Linked DNA regions of Homo sapiens: region 1 is linked to region 2. A link means that fine-mapping ties the variant in region 2 to the expression of a gene that starts in the linked region. Tissue or cell type: aorta. Region 2 holds a variant in brackets; the other region holds the start of a gene. All regions are shown on one strand. Distances are from middle to middle.

Region 1 (8,105 bases), 920 kb before region 2:
GAGACCTTTTATCTATTTCTGCTACTCATGTTGGGGTTCTCATCACCTTGTCATTCTATTTTTTACCACAGACAGCCCTTTACAAAGAACATTTACTTCTAGTAGATTCCAAAGGACAGGGAACAGAGCTGGGTGCGGTGGCTCATGCCTGTAATTCCAGTACTTTGGGAGGCTGAGGTGGGCAGATCACTTGAGGCCAGGAGTTCACGATTAGTCTGGGCAACACAGTGAGACCTTGTCTCTACCAAAAATAAAAATAAAAATAAAATAAAAAGGGCAGAGGAAACCAAACTAAAAAACCCAAAGAACATTTACCAGCACTATACAATTTGATCCTTACAACAAGCCTATAATATGTATGAATGTCCACAATATTTACATAAGGAAATTTAAATTCAGTAATATCACACAACTTATCCAAGGTCATGTGGCTTTTATTAGGTAGGTGCAAAAGTTATCGTGGTTTTTGCCATTACTTTCAATGGCAAAAACAGCAATTACTTTTGCACCAACCTAATAACATGCGGCACTAGAACTCAAATTTGTCTCTTTTTATTATATATTATACACTACTGTGTATACGGCCTTATTAAGAAGTCTTCTAATTTCTGTCTCTCCAAACCATCTGAATAGTTTTCCTAAAAACCACTTTACACAGTCTCAAAACCCTTCAACAGCTTTCCTCTACTTCAAGCAATCCACGGCCTCCCTAATCAGATGCTATCTACTTGTCACTACAGTTCCTTTAGAGAGCCTTCTAGTCAACTCAATACCTGAGAAACATAAAACACCATCACATCTGTGTAACTTTACTCAAGGAGACTTTTTTACCTGGCATGTCTTTCTTTTCTCCCCCCAAATAAGGTGCCAGTTCCACTTTCAGGAATGAGGCCTTTCCTTCAGGCTCTTACTCTTTTTTTTTTTTTTTTTTTGAGACAGAGTTTCCCTCTTGTTGCCCAGGCTGGACTGCAATGGCGTGATCTCGGCTCACTGCAACCTCCACCTCCCGGGTTCAAGCGATTCTCCTGCCTCAGCCTCCCGAGTAGGTGGGATTACAGGCATGCACCACCACACTTCGCTAATTTTGTATTTTTAGTAGAGATGGGGTTTCTCCATCTTGGTCTGGCTGGTCTTGAACTTCCGACCTCAGGTGATCCGCCTGCCTTGGCCTCTCAAAGTGCTGGGTTTACAGGTGTGAGCCACTGCGCCCGGCCGAGGCTCTTACTCTTATCAATAAGCTCGCAGGGTTCACTCTATTTCTCTCATTTGAACTTCCGTAACAAGTACACACTTGAGCGAATATACCATATACTTCCTTAAATAGATTCAATTACCCCATCTCCTATATTTGGCTATTCTGAGTGCTCTCTGACAGTAGGATTCTTGATTTACTCCTCCACCATCACACATCTGTACTGGACACTACAGGTAATGGAGATCATTAATGTGTACTGTCTTACTTGGTTCTTCCCAAAACCCTGTGATCTAGGTGCCAGAGATTCCAAAATTCCAAATGAAGAAAGGTTAAGTGACTTGCCAATCTTCATACTGTTAGCAAGTAGCAGAAATACTTCAAAGCTGAAATCTTATGATCCCCACATCCGGGTTCTTTCAATAACACAATGGTGCCATATACACTATTCCATAATAATAGTATTCTATACTGCCTTAGCAGAATGCCCATACTTAATGTTTGCTGATGATGATCCAAGTGCAAGGAAGAGCAAGAGCAGTTAGTGGGGCAGGTAAGCACAGGCTATGAGGTGCTTACCTAGCAAGAGGGAAGGATTTGTGTACACAAATGACCATCAATTCCCCATACTCTCACATGTCTTGAAGCAATTTACCATCCCAACCTCCAGAATATGTTTCTGTATCTTAAGGTTTGAGTGTGAGGCCAGGTGCATGGTGACTTATGCCTGTAATCCCAGCACTTTGGGGAGCCAAGGTGGGAGGATCTCTTGAGGCCCAGGAATTTGAGACCAGCCAGGGCAACACAGTAAGACCCTGACTCTACAGAAAAGTTAAAAGCAAAAAAATTAGTCAGGCATAGTGGTGCACATTTGCAGTCCCAGCTACTCAGGAAGCTGGGGTGGGAAGATCACCTAAGCTTAAGAGTTCAAGGCCGCAGTGAGCTAAGATCCATTCTGGGCAATGGAGCGTGACCCCTCTCACAAGAGAAGAGTGTGAGAACCATGTCTTTCAAAACCAATGACACTCAAAAAGACAAGTAAAAAGACCTGGATCTTAACCCCTCAACATAATCATGTTTTCATTTCTTAAGCACCTACCATGTGTTATGCACAGGGAAGTCTGAAAGCTGTTTTCAATTATATTCAAAAATTCTGCTTACTATATTAAAGACACCATGCTTAACAATTCTCATCAAACCAGCCCAGGGCCCTACAATGAGAGAACTGGAAGGGAATTTAGAGTTAAGTCCCTCATTTTAAGGCTAAATCTCTCACTTTGCAGATGAGAAAACAGATATAGAGAGAGCAAGCATATTTCAAGGTCACAAAGCTAATTAGAGGCAAAATCAACACCAGGACGTTGTTCTCCGTGCAACTGTTTCTTCCAAGATGCTGTGCAAAGAGCAAGAAAGGCCAACCCAGGGACAGTTTTCCTTTTTTTCTTTTCTTTTAAACCCTTGTTGCTAGGACTGCAGTTAAAAAAAATTTTTTTGGATGAGCAGAGGGAGGAAAGGGGCAAGCGTGAGCGGGCAGCAGTGCACTTGGTAGCAAAGAGGGAGGTGGAGGGAAGAGAGGAGAGGGCGGGGAAAAACAACAGGAAAAAAAGAAAAATCTTAAAGGCTTCTTGTCAGCCCAGTAGAACAGTCAATACTCAAATATTTTCAGTATTCGCCTATCATGATAAAACGCCTAAAAACTTCAGTAAGCAAAAGGACAAGAAGCACTTTGGAATCTGTAGCAGCACGCAAGGGTGATGGTGGTAGAGAGTTTGGGGGATACTGATTCTTTAATCTTTGGGCTTCGGTTTTCCGTGTCTGTGAAATGGGCACTGACAACAGTGCACCCAGCCCCCCAGGAGAAAAGAGATGGACACGATTAAATATAGGAAAAATCAAATTACCGAAAAAGGTGTGGCGACCAGGACCAGAACACTTGCGAGAAAAGAAGAAGTTCTAAAGAGGACCGGGTCCAGGTTTGAAGTGTGATGAGGGCAAGGGCAGGCTCCAAGCGTGCGTAGGGTTGTGATAGTGGTCACACAAGGGCTCCCCTCAAAAGGCCGTAGAAAATAAGGGAGACCGGGATGGGAAGGTTGGCTCGCCGCCTCCCAGGCCTCCCCAGGATTCAACTGTTCCCAAGAACCGGCTCCTCACCTTATCCAACAAGCCGCTACGGCCACTTCCTGTCCCGCAGTTGGAAGCACCACCAGCCCCACTACAGCCTCCGCTACCACCGCTTCTCCCGCCCTGTACAGCTGCCGCCGCCATCTTGTCCGCCTCTGCGTCTCCCTCCCCTCCGACTTGTCTGAAGCCGATTGGCTGGAGCTGACAGCGTGACGCGCCGCGCGGAGTCAATCGGGATCCGTAGTTTGGGTCTTGCTGGCGCGAGGTAGTCAGAGGACGTGGCCGCGGGGCTTGCTGGGACTTGAGGTTAGACGTCCCGGCCGTCGGTTGCCGCCTACACTGTCTGCCGTCGCGTCGCAGTTACTAAGGCGTGGGGAAGATAGCGGCAGGCACCGCAGTGGAGCGGCTCCGAGATCCCCGGGGGGCTCGCAGGCGCGCATCCCTCCTGACTGGGACGTCGCCTCCGCAGACCCCTCGGAGGCTGAAGCGACGCCGGAGGCAGGTGCGACTGAAACTTAGTTTTCGAATTCGAGTCTTTCTCCGGCCCAGGTGTGGAGTTTCCAAAGGAGTGGGCAGGAGCTTGTCCTTCATCCTTTTCTAGCCCGGTTGTGGCACTTACCGATTATTCTCTCAAGCAGCTGTCATTTTAGCTGTTTGTAATGTTTTCGTGTTAACGGAGAACTCGCGTTTACTGAGTGCCTACAGTCTGCCAGGCAGTATCCTATGTGCACTTCCAGCCATCCTCTCTCTCACTGAGTCCCACAACAGCCCTGTTAGATGAGGAGGAAACTAAAGAACCTACCCAAAGCCAGATAGCATGTATCTGAACTCGGTTTTCAAGCCGGCATTTAAAAAAAATCAAAACCAATATATATCCCTTCTGACACTCTGCTTTTACGGTTTTAGGATGTAATAGTATTCTAGATTTTAATTATTTTTTTCACAAATGTATATTGAGCACCAATATTGTACTAACGGATACAGGGGATCAAGATAGACCTGGTTGCTACTCTGGTGGACTACTACTCCATGACAGAGTTATCAAATAGCAGTATTGTATTATACCATGCTCTATTACGTTGTATTTTAATTAATTTTTTTCACAAATGTATATTGAGCACCAATATTGTACTAACGGATACAGGGGATCAAGATAGACCTGGTTGCTACTCTGGTGGAACTACTACTCCATGACAGAGTTATCAAATAGCAGTATTGTATTATACCATGCTCTATTACGTTGTATTGTTTTTTAATTCCTATATATCCCCCATAAGCGTCTAAAGAATTAAACAAATATTTTTGAGTTTCTTACTATGTAACAGGCACTATTCTAGTCACCAGGGATATATCCCTGAATAAAACAGACAAAAACTTGTCTTGGGGAAGCCAAAATTCATGTGAAAATAATTATCTCGGCCGGGCGTGGGGGCTCATGGTTGTAATCCCCGCCAAGGCAGGCGGATCACCTGAGGTCAGGAGTTAAAGACCAGCCTGGCCAACATGGTGAAACCCCGTCTCTACTAAAAATACAAAAATGAGCCGGGCGTGGTAGCGGGCACCTGTAATCCCAGCTACTTGGGAGGCTGAGGCAGGAGAATTGCTTGAACCGGGGAGGCGGAGGTTGCAGTGAGCCGAGATCAGAAAGAAAAGAAAATAATTATCACTAAATAACTAAATTATTACTAAAAAGAAAATAAATATCACTAAATAGCAATAACATCAGATGATATTTCATTACCTCTGTGAAGCAATCCGTGGACACTAGTCAGATCCCCTGTAGCTTGTTGTTGCAGTTTATCTTTTACAACTTCTCATTTTTCTTTTATTTAAAATAAAGTGAGATGATACAGCATTGCCCTAGTCACTTTTTATTTTATTTTTTATTTTTTGAGACAGAGTCTCACTCTGTCACCCAGGCTGGAGTGCAGTGGTGGGATCTTGGCTCACTGCAACCTCTGCCTCCTGGGTTCAAGCAGTTCTTGTGCCTCAGCCTCCCAAGCTGTAGTCTTTGTAGCTGGGACTACAGGCACATGCCACCACACCTGGCTAATTTTTATATTTTTAGTAGAGACAGGATTTCGCCGTGTTGGACAGCCTAGTCTTGAACTCATGACCTCAAGTGATCCGTCTGCTTCGGCCTCCCAAAGTGCTGGGATTACAGGCATGAACCACCACACCAGGCCAACTTCTCATCTTTCAAGATCCAGCTTTAATGTCACCTACCCTGTGAAACTATTTCTGATACTTGCTTCTTCTTTCTTCACCCACTGCATGAAGTGCTCCTGTGGCATTTTGTTCATGGGTTGGGTTAGTTCAATTAACAATCATTGAGACTCTTCCTTCAGTAGGCCAGGTCCTGTGTGAGATGCAGGATAAAGAGATAAGTACAGGCTCACGCCTGTAATCCCAGCACTTTGGGAGGCCGAGGCGGGCGGATCACGAGGTCAGGAGATCAAGACCATCATGGCTAACATGTTGAAACCCCGTCTCTACTAAAAATACAAAAAATTACCCAGGCATGGTGGCGGGCGCCTGTAGTCCCAGCTTCTAGGGAGGCTGAGGCAGGAGAATGGCGTGAGCCCGGGAGGCGGAGCTTGCAGTGAGCTGAGATAGCGACACTGCACTCCAGCCTGGGTGACAGAGCAAGACTCCGTCTCAAAAAAAAAAAAAAAGAAAAAGAGGTAAGTAGGACCCAGGCCTGACCTGACCTTGGAGATACTCACAGCCTGTAGTGAGGTGGGGAACAAACAAGGAAGCAGGCATTATAATACAGTGTGGTATAGTGCCTGTATTAGTCCATTTTCACACTGCTATAAAGAACTGCTCAAGACTGGGTAATTTATAAAGGAAAGAGGTTTAATTGACTCACGGTTCTGCATGGCTGGGGAGGCCTCAGGAAATTTACAATCATGGCGGAAAGGGAAGAGGCAAGTCTTACATGGCAACAGGCAAGAGAGGGCAAGAGTGTGAAGGAGGAACTGTCAGTTATAAAACCATCAGATCTCGTGAGAGCTCACTCACTATGGTGAGGACAGCATGGGGGACCACCTCCTTGATCCAATCACTTCCTACTAGGTCTCTCTCTCAACACATGGGGATTATGGGGATTACAATTCAAGATGAGATTTGGGTGGGGACACAAAGCCTAACCATGTTAGTGCCTCCATTAAGAAGTGGGCCTGATGGCTGGGCAAGGGGGTTCACGCCTGTAATCCCAACACTTTGAGAGGCTGAGTTGGGAGTTTGAGGCAGCCTGGGCAACATGGTGAAAACCCATCTCTATCAAAAATATAGAAATTTAGCTGGGCATGGTAGCACACGTCTGTGGTCCAGCTACTTGGGAGGCTAAGGTGGGAGGATTGCTTGAGTCTGGGAGGTGGAGGTTGCAGTGAGCTGAGATCATGCCACTGCACTCCAGCCTGGGTAACAGAGTGAGACCTTGTCTCAAGAAAAAAAGAAAAAATAAATAAAAAAAGAAGTGGGCTTGAGGAGGCTCAGCCTAAGGAGAGGGAGATACAGGAAAGCTAATCTGTATGTAGCCGGGCAAGGAAGAGGGGCAGAAATGTGATAGGCCAAAGGAATGGAACAAGCAAAAATATGCCTTACTCTGTGTGTGTGTGTGTGAGAGAGAGAGAAAGAGAGATGTTTGTTTTGGAGGAAGCGCTACAGTCAGATTGGCATTAGCTGCATCAAGTTTGAGATGGAGACCAGAGGTAACTAAAGCTAACCAGGAAGTCAGCCTCCAAATCTGGAACTTTGACTTTTTTTTCTACCATATAAAGATCTTACTTGTCTTAGATAATGTAACCAGGGGTTATGTGCCCTTCTTGGCCCATTAGTTGTAGATCTACACCTTCTCACCTAATATTCCTAATAGGGAACTAGAATTTCTGCGATAGCATCCAGGTCTGCATGCCTCCTACAGGCTTCAGTGTGAGTCATCTTTTGTATTATATGCATGGCAAATATCTTTTCCCAGACTGTGTCTTATCTTTCAACTTTGACTTTCCTATTTTTATCTGGCAGAAATTTATTTTGTGTAAATAATCATGTAAACGATCCCGTCCTTTCAGGTTTGTGCTTCGTGTGTCTGATTTAAGCACTCCAGCCATACCCCACTATCATAATTATATTCTCCTATACCACCTTCCCATCTATGTCTTGTCTTTGTCTCCATCTCTGTATTGGTATCTATCTGTTTCTTGGATCCTTAGTCCTACGGGCAAGGACTAAAGGCAAGACAAATATTGGAGTGGAAGGCTCACAGTAGAATATAATTAATGAGGAAGTTCAAGAGCTCTGAATAGCAGGCTAAGAAGGAATATAATATTTATCTTACAGGCAAAGAAACAAGTGAAGAAACAAAAAAAAAAGGAAGTTAAGGGGCCATTCCCAAAGTCAAAGATCAAGTAAGTACTCTGGAGACCTGAAGCCAGGTCACCATATTCTGTAAGTTACTGAAGGCTTCTCCAACAGCCATCATATTTAACATTTTCCAGCCAGCAAATTACATCACATCTAACATTTTCCAGCCAGCAAGTTACTCATTCATTCTTTCATTTACCTCTAGCAGATGTGTGTGATTGGTCATGAGAGAGAGTTCCTGAAAGACATATTGACTGAATATAAATTTGTCCCCATCCATCCATCTATCCATTAATCTTACCAACATATTTTTAGTGAGTCGTAGGCTCTATGCTACATGCTGGGATTACACAGGTGAATAAGGTAATTATAGGCCCCACAACAGGTGAGAAGTTGATGAGGGGAGCAAACAATTATAATAAAG
Region 2 (8,105 bases):
AACAGCAAAAGCCTGCCCCTGCCTCCATTATGCTCCATTATGCCTCAGTATGCTGTTTTTACAAAGCCATCAGACAAATGGATATGAGTGAAACTTGAGAGAGTTACTGAGTGGGGTTTTTTTTAAGCCAGAGCTATATGCTAGGCTAGGCCCTAGAGATACAACATGATTCAGACATATGGTTCATGCCCTGAGAAGCTCACAGTCTGATGGGGTAAACATACAATTACACAGTGTCATATTCTTAAGTGCTTCCTTATAGAACAAAGCCATGTAGCAATCTTATTTAACTCGTGAATCTGGGAAGGCCTCCTGGAGGAGATCCAATAGAACATGGCCTTGAAGGCTGGGCAAGTTTATAAAAAGCAAGAAGACTGCTCTGAGACAGAAAGCATGTTCAGGCCAAAGGATTAGGATTAACTAAACATGCTTCCCCATGCCTATTCCTATTTACAGGTAGTAATGTTTCATTTTCGTCTATCTACCCATTCCTTTGAGGCCTGAAAATCATCAGTGTATAATATTAAACAGCCAGCACCTCCTGTAGAGTGAGCCCTCTGTTAGGTGCTGTGAGGGAGATGTGACCCCTATTCCCCAGGAATCAAATTTGCCTTCAGTTCCTAATTTTCTCCTCTCAAATAATCTTGCAAACATGTATCATTTACTGGGTCTATTTATTAATTGATTCACTCCCATTCCATCCCAAAAATAATTTGAGATGACTAGTAGCTTCTGTTTATTAAGTGGTTATATATTCACCACACAGTGTATGCCCATTTCTTTCGTGTATTCTCTACTGTAACCTTATGAAGTGGGTGGTGTTGATTACACTGTACAGATCAATAGGCTCAGAGAGGATGGTTTGCTTATGATCACAAAGTTAACAAGTGACAACAGAGATTCGAACCCAAGATTGACCGGCTCCAAAGCCTATGCTCTTTCCAACATACCTTGCTGCTTCTATTTTCTGTGTAAATCTTCCCTGCCTTATCATATGGGTGATAGATATTTCCTTGCTTTTATTTTCGAAGTAAAATAGGTAGTTTTAATAACTGTCATCAAATAGGTAAATAAGTGGATTCTCATTTTGATTTTTAATATAGGTAGTTACTGAAGTAACTGGAAGCATGAACATGCCCACCAGGACTCCCAGCTCCCAACGATTCCTGAGCATGAGCAGATAGTCTCTGAAAGCATTTCCACAGATGTATCCACAACTATAGATTAGATTCTGGTCCTCTGATATTAGAATAAAGTACTAAAAATTGTACCGCCTTGAATATAGTCTCACTGAATCTTGGGTGGACTAATTTTCTTTATGGTTTGTTCAGAGTCTGATTGCCATAGTGCTTCTGAAGCTAAAGGCTAGTGTGGGAAATTTGAGGGGTCTGTGGCCCTACCTTGTAATAAGAGTGATATGTGTTGCTGTTCAGATCTGCAGACTATCACCAGGGATTCGCAAGCAGCTTTGAGTTCTCACCGAGCCAGGAGTAGAAGCAACAAGGCCACCACCCTCCCAGATGCTCAGGACACAGAAGCACTGCAAGAACGATGCACAATGCCAGATGAGCCATTGGTAAGAGCTCCAGATAAAGGCACAGATTCCCCATCACCCCCTCCTCTCGAAGAGACTTCAAATGGAGGAAGAATGCTCCATGAGTCCCTGAGGCATGCAGTACCCATTACAAGGATGCAGAGCAGTGAAGACACTGAGGCAGGCCCAGCCTACAGTGATGAGGACTATGAAGAAGACATCATTGAGCCCAGGACCTTAAATGAGATCACCACGGTGACAGACAAAACTAGCCCTTGGTCTAGTGTCATATCAGACACAAGTGAGGTCATCAGCCCTCAGCCTGACGAGGTGCAGAGGGAAGGCCCCTCTTGTCCTTCTCCAGGGCCTTTCTGCAGAGAGGAGCTTATGGTCAAAAGTAGCTTTCTCTCCAGCCCAGAAAGGGCTGTCAACCCCCACCTGCCTAGGCAGGGTTCTCCTAGCCAAAGTCTTGTTGCTTGTGAGTGTGAGGCCTCTAAGGCCAGGGTTGGTGGCGAGTCTGCCTCAGCCAACCCTCAGCCCATCCCATGCCCAACACTCTCAGGAGCTCAACAGAGCAGCACGTTTGTTGGATGGAGCTCACCACAGACAGATCAGAACAAGGAGCCCAAGTCAGAGGCCCCAGCTGAGAATGAAGCTGCCACCAGTGAGCTCGGTGACTCTGCTGATAGCTTCAAGAAGTTGCCGCTAAATCTAGCCTCCCAGAGCAGAAGGGAAAACCATAAGGGACCACCCATCGACTCCTCTGACATCAGGCAGAGGCAGGTGACAACTGGATCAGAGACGTCCACAAAGCAGAGCCTCCTGCTGTATCCTTTGGCATTTCCCACAAGTGGTTTGGATGCAGGTACTTAGACTAGCCTAGTGTGAGTGTGAGCAAGTGGCCACCCTCATGGAATGCACTAGGGGGCATGGAAAGACCATTCCTTCAGAAGACCCCACCTGCATGACAGGTGCTACAGTTTTACCATTAACACCAGCCCTCAGAAACATAATGCCTTGAACTGGGTTTAGGCATTCGTAGCACATTAGCCTAGCCTACCCTGATTTATCCAATTCATCTGTTGGGTATTTTACCACCTGAAGGCAAGGCTTGGGATCTAAGGAATGAGACTATTTATCAGTTGAAAGAGAAGCAGAGGGTCTAGAGAAAGAGGAAAGAAAATCACTGCCATTGAGCACTTTATGTACATTTTTCATTCAGTCATCACAAGTCTTTTAGGTAGGTATCATCCCTATTTTGCATATATAAGGAAACTGATGCTCAGTTATTGTGACTTGCCTTTTTTTTTTTTTAAGAGACAGGTTATTCTGTCACCCAAGCTGGAGTACAAGGTTATTACCATACCTCACTGCAGCCTCAGATTCTTATACTCAGGTGATCCTCCCACCTCAGCCTTGCAAGTAGCTAGAACTACAGGTATGCAGCATCACACCCAGCTAATTTTTTTTAAGAGTTGGGGTCTTGCTGTGTCACCCAGGCTGGTCTCAAACTCCTGGCCTCAAGCAATCCTCCTGCCTCACCCTCCCAAAATGCTGCAGTTAGAGCATTTGAGCCACCACGCCTGGCCAGATTAAATTTTTTTAAAAAAGGAAGTGATGGAGCTAAACAGGCACCATGGAGATGGACTTTCCCAAGTCCCCAGTAAGGTACTGTTGATGGGAACAGGGGGCACCTGACATTCCCCACTCCTTCCTTTTAAACACAGACTGGCATGTTATGGGGAAAGGAAACCACTTAGGACCATCTACAGCCTTCACACCTGTAGCCTAACCAGCTGATCAGATCAGCTCACCTGCTATCCCAACAAGCAGGGAATATTGTACGGCTGGCAGGTGAAGCAGGCTGCTTTACTAGACTAGAGATCTTCCTCTACTAGAAGTCAGGGAGCCTGACTTTGACCCTTCTAGACCCACAAAATTATTTTTGTGATTATAGACATATAGTTTAATCTTTATGTGCACGTTTCTTCACCTGTAAAATGGAGGCGGAAATCCCTTACCCACCAAATTATAAGCTCCCCAGGTCAGGGACCTTGTCTTTTTCTGCATCCTCAGGACCTAGCACTACACAGAGAAGGGATTGGTAAATGTAGATTGGATTGAACTATCACAGTTTCACAACATTGTTGAGAAAACCAAATGAGTGGAAACATTTGTACACACCACACAGTATGATTCTTGATGCAGATCAGAGAAAAACCTAGGGGTGGGAGAGTGGGCTCAGGAAAGGATTAAAGCATGCAATGGCTGGAGGCTGAGCTTTGAAAATAGACCTCCTTGTGTGCAGTTCTCCCTGGCCTTGCCCATCCTGGATCCTGGCCCCTAATGTTGCTGCCTTTGCAGTCAGTATTAATTGTGCTCAGAATATGGCCGATGGAGGAGATGCCACATGTGCCCAGACCCTAAGTGCTGCTTTAACTTAGGCCTTCCTGACTATTCTTTCAAAAATAAATCGTGCCAGGCCCTGTGCTGGGTGCCAAGGACAGATTTGAATGAGACCTTACCTCGAGAAGTTCCCATTATGAGATAGGAGACAGTCAAGTAGATAGATACTGACAGTTTATTGTGCCAAGTACTGTGATGAGATGTGGACAGAACGCGAGGGACCATGAGGAGGGAGCTGCCCTAACTCTACTTGGAGCCATCCCAGTAAGAGAGACAGGAGAGCCAGGCCTTAAAGATGAATAGGCATTGTGCAATAGAGACAAGGAAAAGTTCTAGTCAGGACAAACTGTGTGTGCAGAGGCCTCGCTGGGTGAAGGAGGCTGCCTGTGGGCAGTAGTTCACTGTGGCTAGAGTCCAGGGATGAGGGGATGGTGCGAGGTGAGGCAAGGCCTGGATCTTAAAGGACTTCTATACCTGGCTGAGGTACTTGGACTCTATTCTAAAGCAAAGAAACTTCACTTTCCTCATCTGTAAAATGGAGGTGATAATAGTACTTACTGGGTTGTTGTGAAAATGAAAATGAAAATAATCATGTAAACTGCCTAGCACAATACCTGGTACATGAATAGTGTTCACTGTTAAGCAAGAGTGTGGTATGGTCAGATGTACATATGAGAAAAGAAGTCACCCAGTGCCTTGTAGAGAGCAGGTTAAGTAAGGGAAGACTAGAAACAAGGAGGCTAGTTAGGACACTTGCAATAATAACAAGAGATGAAGAAAGTCTGACCTGAAGTATAGACTGCTTTATGATGAAGACGAGGGGAACAGATCTGAGAGGATTAGATAGAGGGGCAGGGGATGAGACAAAGGAAATAGAAAGTGTAATTAGAGGTTTCTGTCACAAGTTACCCGGCAGGTGATATCATTTACTGGATAGGAAACAGCACATAGACAGGTTTGGGAGACGATGCAGATTG[C/T]CGTTTGGGGCATGTGCCTGTAGGACATCCAGGAGGAGATGCAGGAGGAGTGAAGTTGAGGGCTGAGCTCAGCCATAAAGGTAGGCATCTCTGGGAGTCGATGAGGGCAGCAAGAAGAGCCTGGGAAGGGGGAACCAAACACACAGAGGCAGACTCTGAGCATCTCCAGTGTGCAAAGAGAAGCAGGACAGGGCATGCCCACAAAGGAGATGAGGAGAGCTGGTCAGGAGGTGGGAGAAGCAGCGGAGAGAGAGGTGCCGTAGGAGCAGATGCTGCAGAGTTTCAGGACGTCGTGGTCAGCACTGACGCTGCACACAGGTCCGGGAGAATGTGGCTGACATGTATCACTGGTTTTAGTGTTAAGGAGGACCTTACAGTGGTGGGAATGGAAGCCAGACTTCATTAGTCAAAGCAGCTAATGGTGAGGACAGTGAGAACAGACAACTTTTTCACATAAACTGAGGAGATAAGAATAGCTGACATTTATCGAGGCACCATTCTAGGCACTTTACATATATAAATTCATTTAATCCTTAAAACAATAAGTACTAATACATTTAAAAATGGAGAAATTGCGGCACAAAAAGTGAACTTTCCTGAAGTTATCCATCTAGTAAGTGACAGAGAGCTGGGTGGTAACTAGAAGACAATGCAAGGTCAGGGGGTTGTTTGTTTGTTTCCCTAAATGGGAAACTTGAACATTTTTATGAACTGAGGAACAGGAATTTAAAGTTCATGAGGCCAGACATAGTGGTTCACACCTGTAATCCCAGCATTTTGGGAGGCCAAGGTGGGAGGATCACTTGAGGTCAGGAGTTCAAGACCAGCCTGGGTAACATGGCAAAATTCCATCTCTACTAAAAATACAAAAATTAGCCAGGCATGGTGGCATGTGCCTGTAATCCCAGCTACTCTGCAGGCTGAAGTGGAAGAATTACCTGAGCCCAGAAGGTCAAGGCTGCAGTGTGCCATGATCACGCCACTGCACTCCAGCCTGAACAATGGGAGTGAGACCCTGTTTCAAAAAACATAACAAAATAAAAGTTGGTGGGAGAAAGTGCCTGTTGGAGCAGGACCCTAAAGCACACATGAGGCAATGGGCTGGGAAAGAGACTTCCATGCTTCAGAGCCAGCCCTGACACCTCACAGCAAAGTTCTTTCTTCCCCACAGCATCAGCTGGCTGTCTGGCAGTCCCCAGCAGTTTCAGCAACAGCAAATAGATCCTACCTCACCTGGGCCTCTGCAGAAGGCCTGGAGTCAAAGGGTCTTTCCCTTCGGGATCTCCATTCCTCCCCCACCTCTCTACAGAAAAATCAGGGACTTGAACCAAAGCAAGAAATCAATGCATTTCATTCATTCACAAGATATTTATTGAGTACTTACTGTCTCCCAGGTACTATGCTAGGTGACAGGAATATGGTTATGAAAGACAGATCATCTCTGCCTTCTTGAAGTTTAGAGTCTAATGTAGAAGAACGACGATAAAATAGGAAATGTGGTAAGCAAATTGGAGTGAGAACCATACTTATTAAACAGAAACAAAAAATTGGAACATCAAAATAGTCCCCTCTTTACCCCCTTCAGAGTTCAACTAAACTGAATCAGTGATTTGATTCAAAAAATACCTGTAGAACACCATATTCTCAACACAGCACTGAGCACCTCAAGAAGATACGGAGGAGAAGTGCAAGATAACAGTACCTGCCTTCTAGGGCTCACATCCAGATTGGACCAGCTGTACTGGTCCCTGACATGAGGACATGTCCCGTCATGGACAGCCCCTGATGCAGAGCTCTCATTTCTGAATGTGAGCAGAGAAAATAGGCAAGCAGGCCCTCCTTCAGTGCAGGGCACCTAAATGCAGCCTAAGGCACTGCCCCCTGGAGCCACATCCCAATCCCCACATCCCCTGACTGACTTCTAATAGGTCTTTTTCTAACTAGCAGGCCCTTAGGCAAGAATCATTCAACGCCTGCTACCTGCCAGCCTCCTGAGGGGCTTTCAGGAAGTAGAGGTAACAGAAGGAAACTGTCTGTGCCATTGAGAAATTTAGGGAAGATTGAGGAAAATAATCATATCAGACTAAATAATTAAGCATTCTCCTGTGTTGCAGACTGCTCTAGGATGTGAGGAAGGAGGGATCACTGTGGGGCTAAGATTAAGAGAAAGCTTCCTAGAGGAGGCCGGATTTGAACTGATCCATAAAAAACTTATATGTGTTAGGAGTGGGCAAGCCTTCCAGTCAGAGGGAGCCAGCTGAGCAAAGAATTTATGGACAAGAATAGTTGAGGGAAAAACATGAGTGGGGGCAGAGTGAATGGTCAGTGGAGATGCTGGCCTCCACTGCAAGAGGGGTGGACTTCTAGGTATTTTTGTCCCTTAACTACCATTGTAGCCCAGGGCCCATTGTGGTGCCCAACTTCTTTTTGCCTCCCCAGCAGTTGGAGGCTTCCCTGCGGATGCTTTCACTCTCAGCAACTTTGCCACCAGCAGCCACAACAGATCAGGTAAGAGAATGGCCAACTGACCTTTCTTCTATAGAGTCATCATCTCTTCCACAGAAGTGTGCACAGAATGCAGAGCTGCCCCAGGTCATCTTCCTGGAAAGGCTGCAGCAGGGGTCACTCCTCAAGTTTGTACTGAGCATATTCTGTGGGCCCAGCAGTGGGCAGGGAGCTCAGGAAAAGTGAGGAAGAGCAAATATGCAAGAGCAGGGCATTGTCAGCCAAGACTGACATGGGGAAGAAAAAAGCTGTGCAGAAGCATGAAAGCAAGAGGCAGCTAAGAAATGTGTATTGAGTGCTGTGGGAGTCCCCACCAAGCAGGTAGATAGGAGCGGAGATGCAACCTTACGGGAGTACAACAGTAAGATCTGGATGAGGAGAATAATATCAGTCGTACAACTATTTGCCATTTACAAAACACCTCATAACTATTCATTCAGCTGAAGTAGGTGGTTGGAACTCTGGTACAAATCCCACATCTCCTCTTTTCTGCCTTGGCAGAGCACCTGAACTTTCTTGCAAGTACCAAGAAAATAAACAATAATAATAACTGCTTAATAATAACTGCTTTTGAGTACCTACCCTGTATCAGGTGTCATGCTGGATACTGAGCATATAGTAGTAAATAAGACAGACAAATTCCCTATCTTCATGGAGCACAAATAATGAGCAAAAAATAAAAT

Evidence for each region. PIP is the estimated chance that this variant, and not a neighbour inherited with it, causes the effect.
Region 1: XRRA1 starts here. The variant in region 2 is fine-mapped to the expression of XRRA1 in aorta (GTEx, PIP 0.97).

What each region holds. Positions count from the first base shown.
Region 1 is chr11:74,944,638-74,952,742 of GRCh38, reverse strand. XRRA1 (X-ray radiation resistance associated 1) reads left to right here and starts at 3,652. Exons shown (of 19, transcript NM_001378157.1): 1 at 3,652-3,815; 2 at 7,658-7,725. SPCS2 (signal peptidase complex subunit 2) reads right to left here and starts at 3,477. Exons shown (of 5, transcript NM_014752.3): 1 at 3,344-3,477. The coding sequence starts at 3,457. RefSeq lists enhancers at 3,223-3,272, 2,575-3,429, 3,353-3,572, 3,703-3,762, 3,883-3,932 and 1 more.
Region 2 is chr11:74,027,607-74,035,711 of GRCh38, reverse strand. It overlaps C2CD3 (C2 domain containing 3 centriole elongation regulator), which reads left to right. Exons shown (of 33, transcript NM_001286577.2): 31 at 1,434-2,361; 32 at 7,314-7,425. Among named protein-coding and RNA genes, the nearest start is that of UCP3, 23 kb to the right of the region's middle. The variant C/T (reference allele first, on the strand shown) is at 4,918.